2 separate regions of the Homo sapiens genome follow, and region 2 is linked to region 1. Evidence: fine-mapped QTL for protein levels in blood plasma. Region 1 holds a variant in brackets. A gene starts in the other region. All regions are shown on their reverse strands.

Region 1 (8,330 bases):
CCAGCCTGGGCAACAAAGCGAGACCCCATCTCTCCAAAAAAAGTAAAATAAATTAGCGGGGCATGGTGGTGCATGCCTGTAGTCCCAGCACTTTGGGAGGCAGAGGTGGGAGAATCACTTGAGCTCAGAAGTTTGAGGCTGCAGTGAGCTATGACTTGCATTCCAGTCTGGGAGGTGGGGTGAAGCTGAGCCCTCTTGAATGAATCTGTGGTAATTTGTTATGTCAGTTTTAGAAAAATAATACACAATCTAATCATTTCTCTAATCCTCTGTTATTGTTATATTATTATTATTTTTTTTGAGATGGAGTCTCACTCTGTCACCCAGGCTGGAGTGCAGTAGCATGATCTCAGCTCACTGCAACCTCTGCCGCCTGGGTTCAAGAGATTCTCCTGCCTCAGGCTCCCGAGTAGCTGGGACTACAGGTGCCTGCCACCACCATGCCCAGCTAATTTTTTGTATTTTTAGTAGAGATGTGTTTTCACCGTGTTAGCCAGGATGGTCTCGATCTCCTGAACTCGTGATCTGCCCGCCTCGGCCTCCCAGAGTGCTTGGATTACAGGCATGAGCCACTGCACTTGGCTATTGTTGATTTTTTTAAAATATTAAACCTTTCCTTGTTCAAATTACCATGTGGTTTCTCTGTCTTGATTTGACCCAGACTTAATCATCACCAACAAATGTAGGTACTAGTGTTTCAGCATTAAATAAAATGGAATATCTGAATTTTGAAAGTCCCCACTTGCAATTACTGTGCAGATATTTTAGAGGATGGGCCATTTGCAGGAGAGGTGTAAAGTCTGCATTGCAGACATAATCCTTAAAGTCGTTTTGAATGCTGCTGTCACACCTGAAAAAAAAAAAAAAAAGAAAATGAGCACTGATGGTGCCTCTGAGGACAGATGGCTCAGATGAAGTGGAGGAAGCTGGGCTGGGCAGCTGCCAGCTTGTCTAAAGGTGATTCCTGGCATCCTATACTTTCATGTGGAGGCCAGATCTAGGCAACATTCAGAAAGCGAGTCCAGCCGGGGATGGTGGCCTGCAACTGGAGTCCCAGCTACTCCAGAGGCTGAGGCAGGAGGATCACTTGAGCCCGGTAGGTCAAGGCTGCAATGAGCTGTTTATGGAGCCACTGAACTCCAGCCTGGGCAACAGAGTGAGACCCTGTCTCTAAAAAAAAAAAAAAAAATTTCCAGATAGAGGTGTCTGGAGATCAATACTCATGGCTAGAGTGGCAATGCTGAGGCATTGAGGTCTAAGAGACAGAAAACAGATTCACACCACTGTGACCTTTGCTCTAGAGAAAGAGGAAGGCCTAAACATGGGACAGTCAAGGTTTTTGTGGGGGCAGGAGGGCTCTAAATATGGGCTGAGGTGTCTATTTATTTGTTCAGTACATTTGTTGAACTCCAGCAATGAGCCAGACACAAAAACACTATGGTGGACAAGACAGTGAGCGTCCTTGTCTTCAGAGACAATGAAATAGACCAACACGATGAGATAAATGCTCAACTCAACTTATGTACAGGTTCCCAAAAGGGCACATTGCAGAGCTACAGGAGAATGCTTCCCAGAGAAGGTGATGAACAATGTGACTTTAAGGAAAGGGAGTTGGGAAGGAAGACTGTGCATCAGTCATCACTGCAAGTGCAGAGATCCAGGGGCAGAAATTGAGGAGAATGTAGATAATTTGGTTGTCAGCCCATCAGAGCTAACACATGCCTTTTTTTTCTTGAGACAGAGTCTGGCTTGGTCACCCAGGCTGGGTGCATTGGCGTGATCATAGCTCACTGTAGCCTTGACCTCCCAGGCTCAAGTGATCCTGCCACCTCAGCCTCCCAAGTAGCTAACACTACAGGCACATGCCACCACACCCGGGTAATTAAGAAACAATTTTTGGGCTGGGTGCGGTGGCTTATGCCTGTAATGCCAACACTTTGGGAGGCTGAGGTGGGCAGATCATTTGAGGTCAGGAGTTCAAGACCAGCCTGGCCAACATGGCAAAACCCCGTCTCTAACAAAAATACAAAAAATTAGCCCAGTGTGGTGGCTCGAGCCTGTAATCCTAGCTACTTGGGAGGCTGAGGCAGGAGAATGCTTGAACCCGGGAGGTGGAGGTTGCAGTGAGCTGAGATCATGCCACTGCACTCCAGCCTGCCCGAAAGAGCAAGACTCTGCCTTAAAAAAAAAAAGAAAAAAAAGAAAAATTTTTATAGAGATAAGGGTGGTCTCGCTATGTTGCCCAGGCTAGTCTTGAACTCCTGGGCTCAAGTGATCCTCCTGCCTCAGCCTCCCAAAGCTCTGGGATTACAGGTGTGAGCCACTGGGCCTGGCCACACGTCTTAAAAAAAAAAAAAGTTTTTTTTGTTTGTTTGTTTTGTTTTTTCTTTTTTGAGACAGAGTCTCGCTCTGTCACCAGGCTGGAGTGCAGTGGCACAATCTCGGGTCACTGCAACCTCCGCCTCCTGGATTCAAGCAATTCCCCTGCCTCAGCCTCCGGAGTAGCTGGGACTATAGGCACGTGCCACCATGCCCAGCTAATTTTTTGTATTTTAGTAGAGACGGGGTTTCACCATGTTGGCCAGGCTGGTCTCAATCTCCTGACCTCGTGATCTGCCCACCTCGGCCTCCCAAACTGCTGGGATTACAGGCATGAGCCACTGTGCCCGGCCAAAAAAAAAAAAAAAAGTTTTGAACACTCCTTTTACTCTGATGAAATTAATGAATAGATAAATAAAACATCTATAATACTACTTTTAAAAGTCAATATAGGCTGGACACATTGGCTCATGCCTGTAATCCCAGCACTTTGGAAGGCCAAGGCAAGCAGATCACCTGAAGTTGGGAGTTTGAGACCAGCCTGGCCAACATGGCAAAACTGCGTCTCTACTAAAAATACAAAAAATTAGCTGGGCATGGTGGTGTGCACCTGTAATCCCAGCTACTCAGGAGGCTAAGGTGTGAGAATTGCTTGAACTGGGGAGGCAGAGGTTGCAGTGGGCCAAGATCGTGCTGCTGCAGTCCAGCCTAGACTCTGTCTCAAAAATAAATAAATAAATAAATAAATAAATAAATAAATAAATAAATAAATATTACAGGCTGGGCGCGGTGGCTCACGCCTGTAATCCCAGCACTTTGGGAGGCCGAGATGGGTGGATCACCTGAGGTTGGGAGTTTGAGACCAGCCTGACCAACATGGAGAAACCCCGTCTCTACTAAAAGTACAAAATTAGCTGGATGTTGTGGCACATGCTTGTAATCCCAGCTACTCGGGAGGCTGAGGCAGGAGAATCACTTGAACCCGGAAGGCGGAAGCTGCAGTGAGCCGAGATCGCACCATTGCACTCCAGCCTGAGCAATAAGACCGGAACGCCATCTCAAAAAATAAAAAAATAAATAAATAAAAATAAAATAAAAAATAAATGTTACAACTACACGGTGGGCATGGTGGCTCACAACTGTAACCCCAGCTACTTGGGAGGCTGTGATGGGAGGATTGTTTGAAGCCAGGAGTTCAAGACTCCCATCTCTAACAGAAAATAAAGAAAAATAAATTGAACTAGTGGTTACTCTTGTGGTAGGGTAGTAACTAGGAGGGACATGAGCCTTTAGGATGCTACAGATGTTTTGTTTTGCTTTGTAGAGACAGGGTCTCTGCTGGAGAGAAGTAGAGTAAAGAAAAAAAAAAGGAGGGAGGGTCTTGCTCAGTTGCCCAGGCTTGAGTGCAGTGTTGCGATCATGGCTCACTGCAACCTTGAACTCCTGAGCTCAAGCAATCCTCCCACCTCAGCCTCCTAAGTAGCTGGGACTACAGGTGTGAACCCCCATGCCCAGCTAAATATATATGTATATATTTTTTGTTTTGTTTTGTTTTTGTAGAGAGGGGGTCTCACTCTGTTGTCCAGGCTCCTCTTGAACTCCTGGCCTCACCCATTCCTCCCCAGCCTCAGCTCCCAAAGGGCTGGGACTGTAGTCATGAGCCACCACACCCAGCCAATGTTTTGGTTTCTTGATATGGGTACTGGTTTCTTGATATGGGTGTGTTTACTTTGTGACAATGCATTGAGCCTACACTTAGGGTTTGTGCACTTTTCTGTATTACATTATTCTTTAAAAAATTTTTTAAATACGCTGGGAGCAGTGGCTCACGCCTGTAATCCCAGCATTTTGGGAGGCTGAGGCAGGCAGACTGCTTGAGTTCAGGAGTTTGAGACCAGCCTGGGCAATATGGCATAACCCTGTCTCTAAAAAAAAAAAAAAA[T/AT]TAGCCAGGAATGGTGGTGTGAGCCTGTAGTCCCAGCAACTCCGGAGGCTGAGGTGGGAGGATGGCTTAAGCCCAGGAGGCAGAGGTTGCAGTGAGCTGAGATGCCACGACTGCAATCCAGCCTGGGCAACAGAGCCAGAACCTGTCTCTCTCTCTCTCTCTCTCTCTCTCTCTATATATATATATTTTGGCTGGGCGCAGTGGTTCATGCCTGTAATCCCAGCACTTTGGGAGGCCGAGGCAGGTGGATCACGAGGTCAGGAGTTCAAGACCAGCCTGGCCAATATGGTGAAACACCATCTCTACTAAAAATACAAAAATTAGCTGGGCATAGTGGTGCATGCCTGTAGTCCCAGCTACTCAGGAGGCTGAGGGAGGAGAATCTCTTGAACCTAGAAGCGGAGGTTGCAGTGAGCTGAGATTGCACCACTGCACTCCAGCCTAGGCAACAGAGCAAGACTACATCTCAAAAAAATAAAAATTTAAGTAATGTATATGTCAGTATGTAATGCTTGGGTAGGGCTTTGCTAGGAGATTTGGTGAAGTTGTCATATTGAAGTTGTCATATGCTTGTACCCCCCATTTTTTCCCCACTACCTTTTTCTTCCAATTAAGCTGAGCTTCCCTGAGTCCTGAATAATCCTTTCACCTCCCAATCCCTGCAGATCCCGCCTCAGATGCTGAACCTTGTGCTCTAATTCCGTGGCCTGAAAGCAGTGGCTCTCCTCAGGGGCAGTGCCACCCCTTAGGGGTTGTTTTGTGAATTTTTAGGAGGGGGTGTTTTGGTCGCAGTGAGTGATGGAGGACCTCTGGCATTAATGGGTTAACCCATGGGGATCAGTTGTGTCCTACACAGTGCCAGACAGTCTCACTTAGTGAAAAACTGTCCCTCCTCCACCATCATTTGCAGAATGCCCCATGGCCATCCATGTACATGAGAACAGGTTAATAACTGAGTAGAGAATCTAAATTCATTTTTTATATAAACACGAACATATACGCATGGTTTTAATCCTGACTTTTCATGATTACAGGTGCACACCAGCATGCTCAGCTAATTTTTGTATTTTTAGTAGAGACAGGTTTCATCATGTTGGCCAGGCTGGTCTTGAACTCCTGACCTCAAGTGATCCACCTGCCTCACCTCCCAAAGTGCTGGGATTATAGGCATGACCACCACGTCCAGCCCTAATTTTTATTTTAAGAGACAGGGTCTTGCTCTGTTGCTCAGGCTGGAGTGCAACGGTGCAGGCATGGCTCACTGCAGCCTCTAGCCACTGGGCTCAAGCGATCCTCCCGCCTAAGCCTCCTGAGTAGTTGGGACTACAGGCACGCACTGCCACGCTCAGCTAAGTTTTTATGTTTTAATTTTTTGTAGAGACAGGGTCTTGTTTTGTTACCCAGGTTATCTTGATCTCTTGGACCCCAGCAGTCCTACCACTTCGGCCTCCCAAAGTGCTGGTATTATAGGCATGAGCACCTGACTCTGTTTTCTTGTTTTATTTATTTATTTTTTTTGAGACAGGGTGTCACTCTTTTGCCTAGGCTGGAGTGCAGGGGCACAATCTCACCTCATTGCAACCTCTGCCTCCCAGGCTCAAGGGATCCTCCCACCTCCACCTCCCAAGTAACCGGGACTACAGGCGCACACCACCATGCTAGGACAATTTTTTATTTTTTGAGAAGGAGTCTTGCTCTGTTGCCCAGGCTGGAGTGCAGTGGTGCAATCTTGGCTCACTGCAACCTCTGTTTCCTGGGTTCAACCAATTCTCCTGCCTCAGCCTCCCGAGTAGCTGGGATTACAGGCACCTGCCACCACACCCTGATAATTTTTGCTTTTCTTTTTTTTTGAGATGGAATCTCACTCTGTTGCCCAGGCTGGAGTGCAGTGGCATGATCTTGGCTCATTGCAACCTCTGCCTCCCAGGTTCAAACAATTCTCTGCCTCAGCCTCCCAAGTACTGGGATTACAGGTGGCTGCCACCACACCCAGCTAATTTTTGTATTTTTAGTAGAGACGGGGTTTCACCATATTGGTCAGGCTGGTCTTCAACTCCTGACCTCGTGATCCACCCGCCTCGGCCTCCCAAAGTGCTGGGATTACAGGCATAAGCCACCGCATCCGGCTGCTAGGACAATTTTTTATTTATTTATTTTTGTTGTTGTTGAAACAGAGTCTTGCTCTGTCGCCCAGGCTAGAGTGCAGTGGTGTGATCTCGGCTCACTGCACCCTCTGCCTCCTGGGTTCCAGCAATTCTCCTGCCTCAGCCTCCTAGGTAGCTGGGATTACAGGCGCCTGCCACCACATCTGGCTAATTTTTGTATTATTTTATTTCATTTTATTTTGTAGAGGCGGGGTTTCGCCATGTTGGCCAGGCTGCTCTCAAACTCCTGTCCTCAGGTGATCCTCCCGCCTCAGCCTCCCAAAGTGCTGGGATTACCAGCGTGAGCCACTGCGCCGGTCCGTTGTTGTTGTTGTTGTTGTTGTTGTTGTTGAGACAGAGTTTTGCTCTTGTCATCCAGGCTGGAGTGCAATAGTGCCATCTCAACTCACTGCAACCTCCGCCTCCCAGGTTCAAGTGATTCTCCTGCCTCAGCCTCCCCAGTAGCTGGGATTACAGGTGCCCACCACCATGCCCGGCTAATTTTTGTATTTTTAGTAGAGATGGGGTTTCACCATGTTGGCCAGGCTGGTCTCGAACTCCTGACCTCAGATGATCTGCCTTCCTGGGCCTCTCAAAGTGCTGGGATTACAGGCGTGAGCCACTGTGCCTGGCCTCAGAATGAACATTTTTAAATAAAATAACTGATTTATCCTAATCTACCAGTACATAATGGACTCTCAGGACTGGCAGGGAAAAGCATGGAAAGGAAGGACTCAGATAACACCCATGTTTTGGGACATTAGGTCTAATATTGCTAGTAACAGGAGGGAAGTCTAATTGAGTAGTCAGTGAAAGTTTCTAGGAAAAATAAACTCATAACCCAATAATCATGTGAAAATATTTAGCAGCCATTTAGATGTGTTGGCCTAGAAGGGGGTTACTCAACCTCAGAGCAATTAATATTTTGGACCAGATAATTCCTGTGAAGAGCTGTCCTGTGCATTGTAGGATGTAGTATTAATAGCAGCATCCCTAGCCTCTACCCACTAGATGTCAGTAGCACCTACGTCTCCTCCCTGTCTTTCTGCCCATTTGTGACAAACAAAAATGTCTCCAGACATTGCCAAATGCCCTCTAGGAGCAGTCACCCCCAGTTGGGAATCACTGGCCTACAGTATATTGAAACCAAGGCAAAGAGGGTGGAGGCTTGAACCTTGGGGAAATATATTTTATTTATTTATTATTATTATTATTATTATTATTTTTTGAGATGGAGTCTTGCTCTGTCGCCCAGGCTAGAGTGCAGTGGCACGATCTCGGCTCACTGCAAGCTCCGCCTCCCAGGTTCATGCCATTCTCCTGCCTCAGCCTCCTGAGCAGCTGGGACTACAGGCACCCGCCACCACACCCAGCTAATTTTTTGTATTTTTAATAGAGACGGGGTTTCACCGTGTTAGTCAGGATGGTCTTGATCTCCTGACCTTGTGATCTGCCCGCCTCGGCCTCCCAAAGTGCTGGGATTACAGGCTTGAGCCACCGCGCCCGGCCTTACTATTATGTTTTTTTGCGATGGAGTTTCACTCTTGTTGCCCAGGCTGGAGTGCAATGGTGCGATCTTGGCTCACTGCAAGCTCTACCTCCTGGGTTCAAGTGATTCTCCTGCCTCAGCCTCCTGAGTAGCTGGGATTACAGGCGGATGCCACCACGCCCGGCTAATTTTTTTTTTTTTTTTTTAGAGTTTCGCTGTTGTCCAGGCTGGAGTGCAATGGCACGATCTCAGCTCACTGCAACTTCCGCCTTCCCAGTTTAAGCGATTCTCCTGCCTCAGCCTCCTGAGTAGCTGGGATTACAGGCACCTGCCACCACGCCCAGCTAATTTTTTGTATTTAGTAGAGAAGGGGTTTCACCATTTTGGCTAGGCTGGTCTCCAACTCCTGACCTCAGGTGATCTACCCACCTTAGCC
Region 2 (8,330 bases), not on the chromosome of region 1:
TTGCCGAGGCTGGAGTGCAGTGGCACGGCAACCTCGAACTCCTGGGCTCAAACAATCCTCCTGCCTAAGCCTCAAGAGTAGCTGGGACTACAGGCTTATGCCACCATGCCCAGCTAATTTTTGAAATTTTTGAATTTTTTGTAGAGACAGGGGTCTCACTATGTTGCCGAGGCTGGTCTCCAACTCCCTGCCTCAAGTGATCCCCCTGCCTCAAGTGATCCCCCTGCCTCGGCCTCCCAAAGTGCTGGGAATGAAACATTACTATTTAGATGGAGGAGGGCCAACAGTGATGACTTCGTAGAGTGGCTCAGTGATCCCTAGGCTGTAACTATCTATCTTAGGTATTTTTCAGTTCTACAAGAGCTTTGTACCTGATTCTAATGCACAGCTCCTGGTAAGCTGGGGGACCCTGGGTATAGTGCTGGGTCTGTTCCTTATCTTGAATTTGCTCCCTTTGAAGATTCTTTTGAGTTTTTATATAGTCCCTCATACTGTTCCAAGCCTGTACCTCACTGAGAACCTGCTTATGGAATTGTTTCCTGATGTGATATGAGAAGCTGCTTATTTTGTTGTATGTATTAAGGCAGAGAATCTAGGAGTGTGAGCTGGAAGGGGAGACCATTGGAAGTGTATTTGTGTGAGTGTGTGTATAACAGGACCCTCCTAAGTTGAAGAGTTAGCTAATTGGTAAGAACAAGGCTTCTGGCAAGCCGTGGAAACTTCATTTTTAGGCCACTGAAGTAACGTGCCCAAGTTAGCATCTTATGTCCATCTCCTCTGCCTTCAAGGTGGCATGATGCTTGGTTTCTGGAGCCTTGCAAAACATACAGTGAGCCTGGTTCTTGGCACCGACAGGATGCATCATCTCTCCTTCCACATCTCTTAATGAAGTGTGCAGCTCTTGGCCTCATTAGGCCCCAGCATTGTCAATAAAAGAGTCAATAAACCCGGTTGATGGGGTTGGGACCGAGAGGCTGAGAGGCAGTGGCTGCACATCCATAGGGCAGACGTCAGCTCCGCCACATGTCATGACCCAGCATTCAGGGATCAATAACCAGCTCAGAATAAAGCCTCAGAGCCTGCCCTCTGCAGTTTCCTCTCCAGACCCATTTCAGCCAGGGCAGAGCGGTGCCAGCCAGCTCCTGCTTTGCTTGCAGTTGTGTTCCCACTGCATGCCATTCTGGGTGCCAGATGCTTTTGTTTCTTCCTGATTGGTCCCTCTGGACATCCCATAGATGCCTATTTAGCGAGTGCCCACCTGGCATGAGAACATGTAGACAGCATTCCCAAGAAGCTCAGAGGCCAATATGGGCCCTATTTTCTGTGTCTTCTGTCTGCTGACAGTGCGTGAAGGGTCCCGGTGGACAAGGCGGTGTGTTTTCTGCATGTTGTGCTGCTGGACTCCATTCCTGGCTGTTCTACATCTCTTTAGATCCCCTTATCTTATCTAATTACAAGGAATTCCAGATTAATTTCATGGCCTCTGCTCCAAAGGACCTCTTATCTGTGAGGGCCTTGTATTTTAACCTTGTCATTCTTTTGTTGTTTGTCTTTAAGGGGCAGGCAGCTAAGAAGAGGATGCTAAGATCTTGCTGGAATTGGGTCTGGGGGGGACGGGAAGAAAAGGGAGGCAGACAGACCTGAGATTTGTGTATTCTGTTCTGTCCTCCTGCCTGTGTGCAGAGACAGCTGGCTGCTTTCTTCCATGACAGCCACATAGTACCCAGCCACACAGAACAGGACCCAGGCAGGGACTCAGCTACTGCCAACCTCTCCAGATTGCTTTGATATTTCTGACAGAACAGTAAAGGACTCGTGACTATCACGTTTTGCCTTGCCTCTCTTCACCTCCTCTAAGACTCCTCCATGTGGTTTCCATGGCTACCCCCAATCAGATTTGGCTTCCTGCGAAATTGGATTTCAAAAAAGGACAAGGCTTCAAAGGAATTTGTCCATTTAACAGAATGTCATTAGGAGTGGGGCTGACTGCTGAAACAGGGTCCTCAGATGATTAAGGAAGGGCTGCGTTCATGTGTGGAGGCAGATTTCTGTCTGCAATGAGGAACCTTGATGCAACATGACAATACCGTATTGGAATCTGCCAGTCACTCACTACATACTACCCGACTGTGCACCTCCCTCTACCCCTGTCTCTCTAAAACCCAGAGATTCTTGTAAGGAAGGATGCATATAGAATACGTACACTGTGAGTTTTTGGTGTAAGTAAGCTATGACAGGCAGTGAAGCCTGCAAAGAAGTGCAATTACCTGGGTTTACTGCTCTTTATCAAACAATTCATTAGCTGGTAGCTTATATTAGTATGTGACACCATATCCTTGAAGAAGAGGGGGAGGTTATCAAATTTTCTTCTGTTGCCAAGAAGGAAAGCAAGGCAAAGTTTAGGTTGACATATGGGGAGACTTTGCTGCCCTTGCTGTATTTTTTGTGTAACAGTTTAGATTTACCAAAAAAAAATTGAGATGATAGCACAGACAGTTCCCATGTATCTTTCCTTGCTTTTTAGTATGCCTCATAAGTACTTCAAAATGATTCTAGAGCAGCTACAATTTTATAGGTGAAGTGGTGAAGTTGGTAAAAATGCCATGGGGGTACCTGGTACTTGATCCCAAGCCTGAAAGGGGTAGTCTGCCCATTGCTATACTTTCTTTCTTTCTTTCTTTCTTTTTTTTGAGATGGAGTCTTGCCCTGTCACCCAGGCTAGAGTGCAATGGCCTGATCTCGGCTCACTGCAACCTCCGCCCCCCGGGTTCATGTGATTCTCCTGCCTCAGCCACCCGAGTAGCTGGGATTACAGGCGTGCACCACCATGCCCAGCTAATTTTTGTATTATTAGTAGAGACGGGGTTTCACTATATTGGTCAGGCTGACCTCAAACTCCTGACCTCGTGATCCGCCTGCCTTGGCCTCCCAAAGTGCTGGGATTATAGGCGTGAGCCACTGTGCCCAGCCACCCATTACTATACTTTCTCAGGGCAGGAAGGAGGATGAGCAGGAGCCAGATACCCCAGAGAGGCTCATGCCAGCCTCTGTCCCCTCACCCCAATTTACTGCAGCTTGTAGGTGGGTCATGTGACACTGAAACCAATGCACCACTGCTTTTCAGATGGCAGGATGCACTGTACTCCTTAAAGGATCACACCCTCATCTTTGAGGCTGTATCTCTGGATGGGAAACAGTACAAGGAGGCAGGCACTTTTATCACACTCATCCTTCTCGATGGTTTCTTCTTACTGCTCTTGCCCCGTCTGCTAGATTGAGTCCATCATTATTCCCCTTATGGCTGTTGTAAAAACCATTTTACCCACTTCCCCCTGTGTCTTTTCCCACCACTCCTAATCTTTTCTACATATTCTGTAGGTTGAGTCTGAGAATAGAAATGCCATTTTTTACAAAGAAGGAAAAAGGCAGAGGTGGAGATGTGTGAGGCCACATACCACCCCGGAGCTCTGGTTAGGTCATTCCCAATCTCAAAAATTGTCAATGGCTCCCCAGTGCCCTCTCAATTAAGTTCAACATTCCTATTCTGACTTTCAAGTCCCTTCACAGTAGAGCTGCAGTTTATCTTGACAACCATAGTCTTTCTACAACATCCAGTAAAAGAGGGCTACTAACTATTCCTCAAGCTGGTGAGGGCTCTTCCATCTTTCTTTACTCTGGTCCTTCCACCTGGAAAGTCCTCTGCCCCTTCAAAGTCTGGTGTGTTTTTCAGAGCCCATCTCAAACACCACATGCACCTTTAAACACTCACATGCACACTGGCACTTCTTTTTATTTTCTTTCTTTTTTAAGAGACAGGGTCTTGCTCTGTTGCCCAGGCTGGGGTACACTGGGGTGATCATAGTTGGCTGTAACCTCAGATTCCTGGGCTCAAGTGATCCTCCTGCTTCAGCCTCCCAAAGTGCTGTGATTACAGGTGTGAGCCACAATGCCTGGCCTCTTCCCTCCTTTTCTGGTATTCAGCTCCCTTCTTTTATCAACCATAGCACTTTATACTTTTTTCATGGCAGTTGACCTATTGTACTTAAAAAACCTCTTTATTTTGAGAATTATAGATTCACAGAGAGTTTCAGAAATAATAGAGGAACTCTGTCTACCTTTACCCAGTTTCCCCCAAGGGTAACATCTGGCACTATTACAGTACCATGTCACAACCAGGACACTGACACCAACTGTCCCTTGAATGAGACCGTGTGATTTTGTCCTTCACTTTCCTCCCTTCCGCAGCTCCTGGAGGGAAAGGGCTCTGTTCTCCTCTCCCTCAGCTTTCTCCCTGTGTTACCCCTTCCTTTCCTCAGGGCCTTTCCATCCTGAGGGAGAACAGCACAGTTTGGTTTCCTGTGTCCCTTGCTGCCACGCTGCCGCGATTCTCCCAAATGTTGGTGTCCTTATATTGCTTATTGGGAATTAATCATTTCCTTTCAACATTGTGGCTTCCCAAAGAGCGAAGTTTTGCCCTCTTTTCTGGGGATGGAGATGTGAACTGGACCGGCAATTGAGGGGTGCTATGCTTGACGGGGATCTCTTCCTTGGATTCTGCCTCCCTGCACCCTACTTCAGGCACCCCGTGGTCTTTCAAATCTGCCACCGTGAGGTCAACTGTTCGGTGCTTAGGATGGAGTGTCCAAAGCCGTGGGTCCTTTGAGCCTTGTGAAGTCTTTTGTTTTGGTGGGTGCTGGAGGGGCGCACCTTTGGCCTCGCACGGTGCGGTGCTTCCGGCACCCCCAATCCTTCTACCGTGGGGCTCCGGCGTGAGCGCCACGTGCACCCACGCCCCGCGCCCCGTTCCGGTCCCCGCCTGCCGCCCGCGCCACTTCCTGACGCGCCCGGGGACCCACGGCCCCGCCCCGCGGCCGGGCTGGGCGGGCGGCGACCGCGGCTGAGGTACAGGTGCCTCGCGGTGCAGCCGGGTCGCCTTCCAGCCCGTCCGCCTCCCGACCAGGGCCCGCGCCCCGTCCCGCCTCTCTCCCGCCCAGCCAAATGCAGGCCGCCGCCCTCCCTGAGGAGATCCGTTGGCTCCTGGAAGGTAACGCCCTGGCGCAGGCCCCCTCCAGTGCTGAGCCGAAGGCCGAAAGGGGACACCAGGCCTCCCACGGCCAGGCTTTCTTTACGGCTTCGTCACTCACCTCCTTCTAGAACCTTAAGGCTTCTAGAGCCCTCAACTCCCTAGAGCCAGCTTTCCATCCTCTCACCTCAGGGCCCCTTTCACTCCCTGGAGTCCCACATCTTCTTTTGCCTTGAGGCACCTCCACGCCTCCACTTCACCTCCCCGGCTTCTAAAGTCCTCAGGCCAGGTTCTTGGTCCCCCATGCCACCTTGCCTGGTCTCCGACCTGTCCCTTTCTCCAAAGGACTGCCCTACATCTGTAGGGTTTCCCGTCCCCCTCCTTCCCCAGCCACGACTTCCTCACCTCTCACAGAAGACCCCAAACCTTCCTGCTTAGAGGTCCCCGAGGCTCTCCAGGGGGCTGCGAGGGGCTCATGGGATCCCCATGGGCCAAGGCCAGGTGGTTGACGTGAGTTTTTGTCAGTGCGAAAACCCCAGCCCTCCCTTTATCACCCTGCAGACGTCTAGGGGTCTCACCCACCCCAAGGCAGGCTCATTCTCAGTATGGGATTTCCTCCTTTTCTAGAAGTGCCCCCATTGTGGTGTGTTCACCTTCCAACTCCCATTGTGGTGTGTTCACCTTCCAACTACAGTGTCTAAGCGGTGGTTTAAAGAGTTCCGGCCATCCCCGTCAACACTCAACACACACTGCCAACACTCCAAAGAGATGTCACAAAGAGACGTTGCTAACGGGCAGTTTCATCTGCTGGGTTTCGTGGTGGAAGTCACTTTTACTTGCTTTCCTGTAACTAACCTTCCAGGGAGGACAGAGGCCTGGAATCTGCAGTCGCATAAGGCTCCCAGGAGGAAACTATTCAGAATTAAGCCTTTTGGCATCTAAGTTGACATAGTTGACACATATTTAACAGACGGCCTGCTTTGGGCAGGTCATATTTTTGGCAAGCAGTATTTTTTTTCAGTTTCTCTCAATTTAATTGGTTTTATATCTCCATTACCTTGTTATCTCGGTATAAATGCCTCCTAATCAAATATTTGGCAAGTCCTTTTGGTCTCTGTCTGTAGCACTATTTCCATTCTGGATTGCTTCTATGTAAAAGCTGTCAGCTAGATATTTCTTTTGAGGTGAGGTTTCCAAAATCCGTTTTACTTACGATCAGAATAAATCTAAATTTTGGGGGTAGAAAACTATTTGCAGGGTAAAAGAGAATTATCTGGGTGTCTAAGAAGAAACAATCCAGCCTTTCCCTCTGTTGTTGGTTTAATATTAGGCTTGTGAAGGAAGGCTGTAATTGTCTTTGGTTTCTAGGAAAGAAGGGACTGTGGCAAAAAGTTTAACTCTGCCCTTGCATTGAAATATATAAACTGATTCTTTTTATTGGTATCTGTCATTTGATGAGAGGAAACCTATTTTATAAGCTTATTAAACTATACTTCAGTTTTGTGTCTAGGCTTGGTAGAAAATTCCTTTTTATTTTCAGAGGCTTGCAATGAAATCCATTCCTTCAGCATTTTTGATGTGCAGTTCTTCATTGTTCAAAACTGACACTTTGGTAAACAACTCATTTCTGCACCTGCCACCTTCCTTTAGCTTAGATTATTTTCTTGTTAGCTGACTGTTTTTAATTGAAGTCTTCAGATCTCCTTCTAAAGCAGAACCTTTGTTTGCTGACAAGTAGAGCGGGGTATGAATGGAGATTAATTGCATGTCGCATACTTCTGTATCAAGCTTGCTGTATCTTAACAATCTCTGTTGGTGCTCAGGTCTTTAAAATATATGGAGGAGTCTGAAACCAAATTATAAGGAGCTTCGTTGGTTAATGTATTTCTTTAAGGCTTTTTTTTTTAAGTTTGCAATTAGAACTTGAATCTGAAGTAGAGAAAAAAATGTAAAGTGTGATTCATCCAGTAATTCTATTGAAAAATGTTTGAAGATATGTTTTTTAAAGGTTCCTGTAATAATAATAGCAATATATTGGTTACAAGTTTTATTTCTTTTGGAACACAGTCGCTGGTGTAGACCAGGAGGATTATTCATTGTGTTACAAATAATCTGTCCATATTAGAAACCCAAAATGGCCATCAATTTGTTGTTTGTTGCTATTTGTCTCCCCCACCACACACTTTTTAAGGTTAACTGTTGACAATTAGAAAAAATGGAGGTCCTGATCTCTATATAGTCACTCTGTGGGAGGGAGTCACAGGATGTGAGGGCTGCAACTCTAGTGCTGCCACATGGCTGTGGGGGTGGGGTTTCCACAATGAATTACTACTTTCATAAACCAAGGCATAAGCATTTGCACAGTGATTTAACACTGGACATCACAGCCATAACTTAAGCATTTATTTATTTATAACTACACAAGCATAAATGACAGGGGCATTTTTTGACATAATGTGTGTGCTTTTAAGAATAAAATATGTAAAGCATTGTGAAAGGTAGATAACAAAATTTTGCATAATGAAGAGAACAGAAATTCCCAAGGCCTAAAATTAATTTTGTTTAAATATAAAATTTGAGACACTTGGAAATGTTTCACTCGACCTAGAAACCTCACTTCTAAAAATCTGTCACTGAAGTGAAAGGTCATGAAGTAGTATATGCACGAAGATCTATGCTAAATGTTAATAAGTTGGGAGACTCAGGGTGATGGTTGAATGAATTATGGGACATTTGTCTCATGGAATACTTCACAGCCACTAAAAGAGTATTCTGTGGATCTATATATAGGCTTGGAAAGTGTCCATGGCATATTTTTAAGACTAAAAGGCAAAATGCATGATAGTACATGTAATATCCCATTTTTGCTTGAAAACCAAAAGACAAAACAAGAAAAGCCACATATGTTATAAATATTTGTGTAAGCCTAGGAATAAGTAAAAAAGAATATATACCAGACTGTTAACATTGGCTTCCTTGAGAGAAGACTGAGAGTTTGGAGGAGGGGAGGTTATTAATTTTTATTTCATACATCTTTGTGTTGTTTGAATTGTGACAATGACCATGCATTACTTCTGTAAACAGGAAAAAATAAACAGTAAGGGTATTTAAAAGAAAAAGGAACAAAAGACAAATAGAAACTCAGAGAGGTCAGAGTGCTAACGGACCATTTACTATGCTTGTGATCATGTTTTTCTCTTTTTAGCCCTGAGGGGTATGGAAGGTGGAGAAATTAAAAAAAAAAAACACGCTATCTTGGATTTTTGGCAAATATCAAAACAGTGTGAGGTTTCTAGAGTAACTCAGG

Alleles and levels. Alleles are on the strand shown, and positions count from the first base shown. The strength of an association depends on the size of the effect and on how common the allele is.
For the plasma level of the protein whose gene starts at base 4,905 in region 2, allele T in region 1 goes with a higher level than allele AT (weak association).

What was found. A credible set is the group of variants that fine-mapping cannot tell apart. PIP is the chance, under the fine-mapping model, that this variant and not a neighbour inherited with it causes the effect. Protein levels are from antibody-based Olink assays in UK Biobank. Linkage for the fine-mapping came from a reference panel and not from the study's own genotypes, which makes the PIPs less certain.
Region 2: it holds the start of SKAP1, and the variant in region 1 is the best candidate, but not a certain one, in a credible set for the plasma level of the SKAP1 protein (UK Biobank, PIP 0.87).

The regions. Positions count from the first base shown.
Region 1 is chr16:30,637,235-30,645,564 of GRCh38, reverse strand. No RefSeq gene overlaps it. Among named protein-coding and RNA genes, the nearest start is that of PRR14, 9.6 kb to the left of the region's middle. The variant T/AT (reference allele first, on the strand shown) is at 4,262.
Region 2 is chr17:48,426,789-48,435,118 of GRCh38, reverse strand. It overlaps SKAP1 (src kinase associated phosphoprotein 1), which reads left to right and starts at 4,905. Exons shown (of 13, transcript NM_003726.4): 1 at 4,905-5,044. The coding sequence starts at 4,999. RefSeq lists a silencer at 4,732-4,991.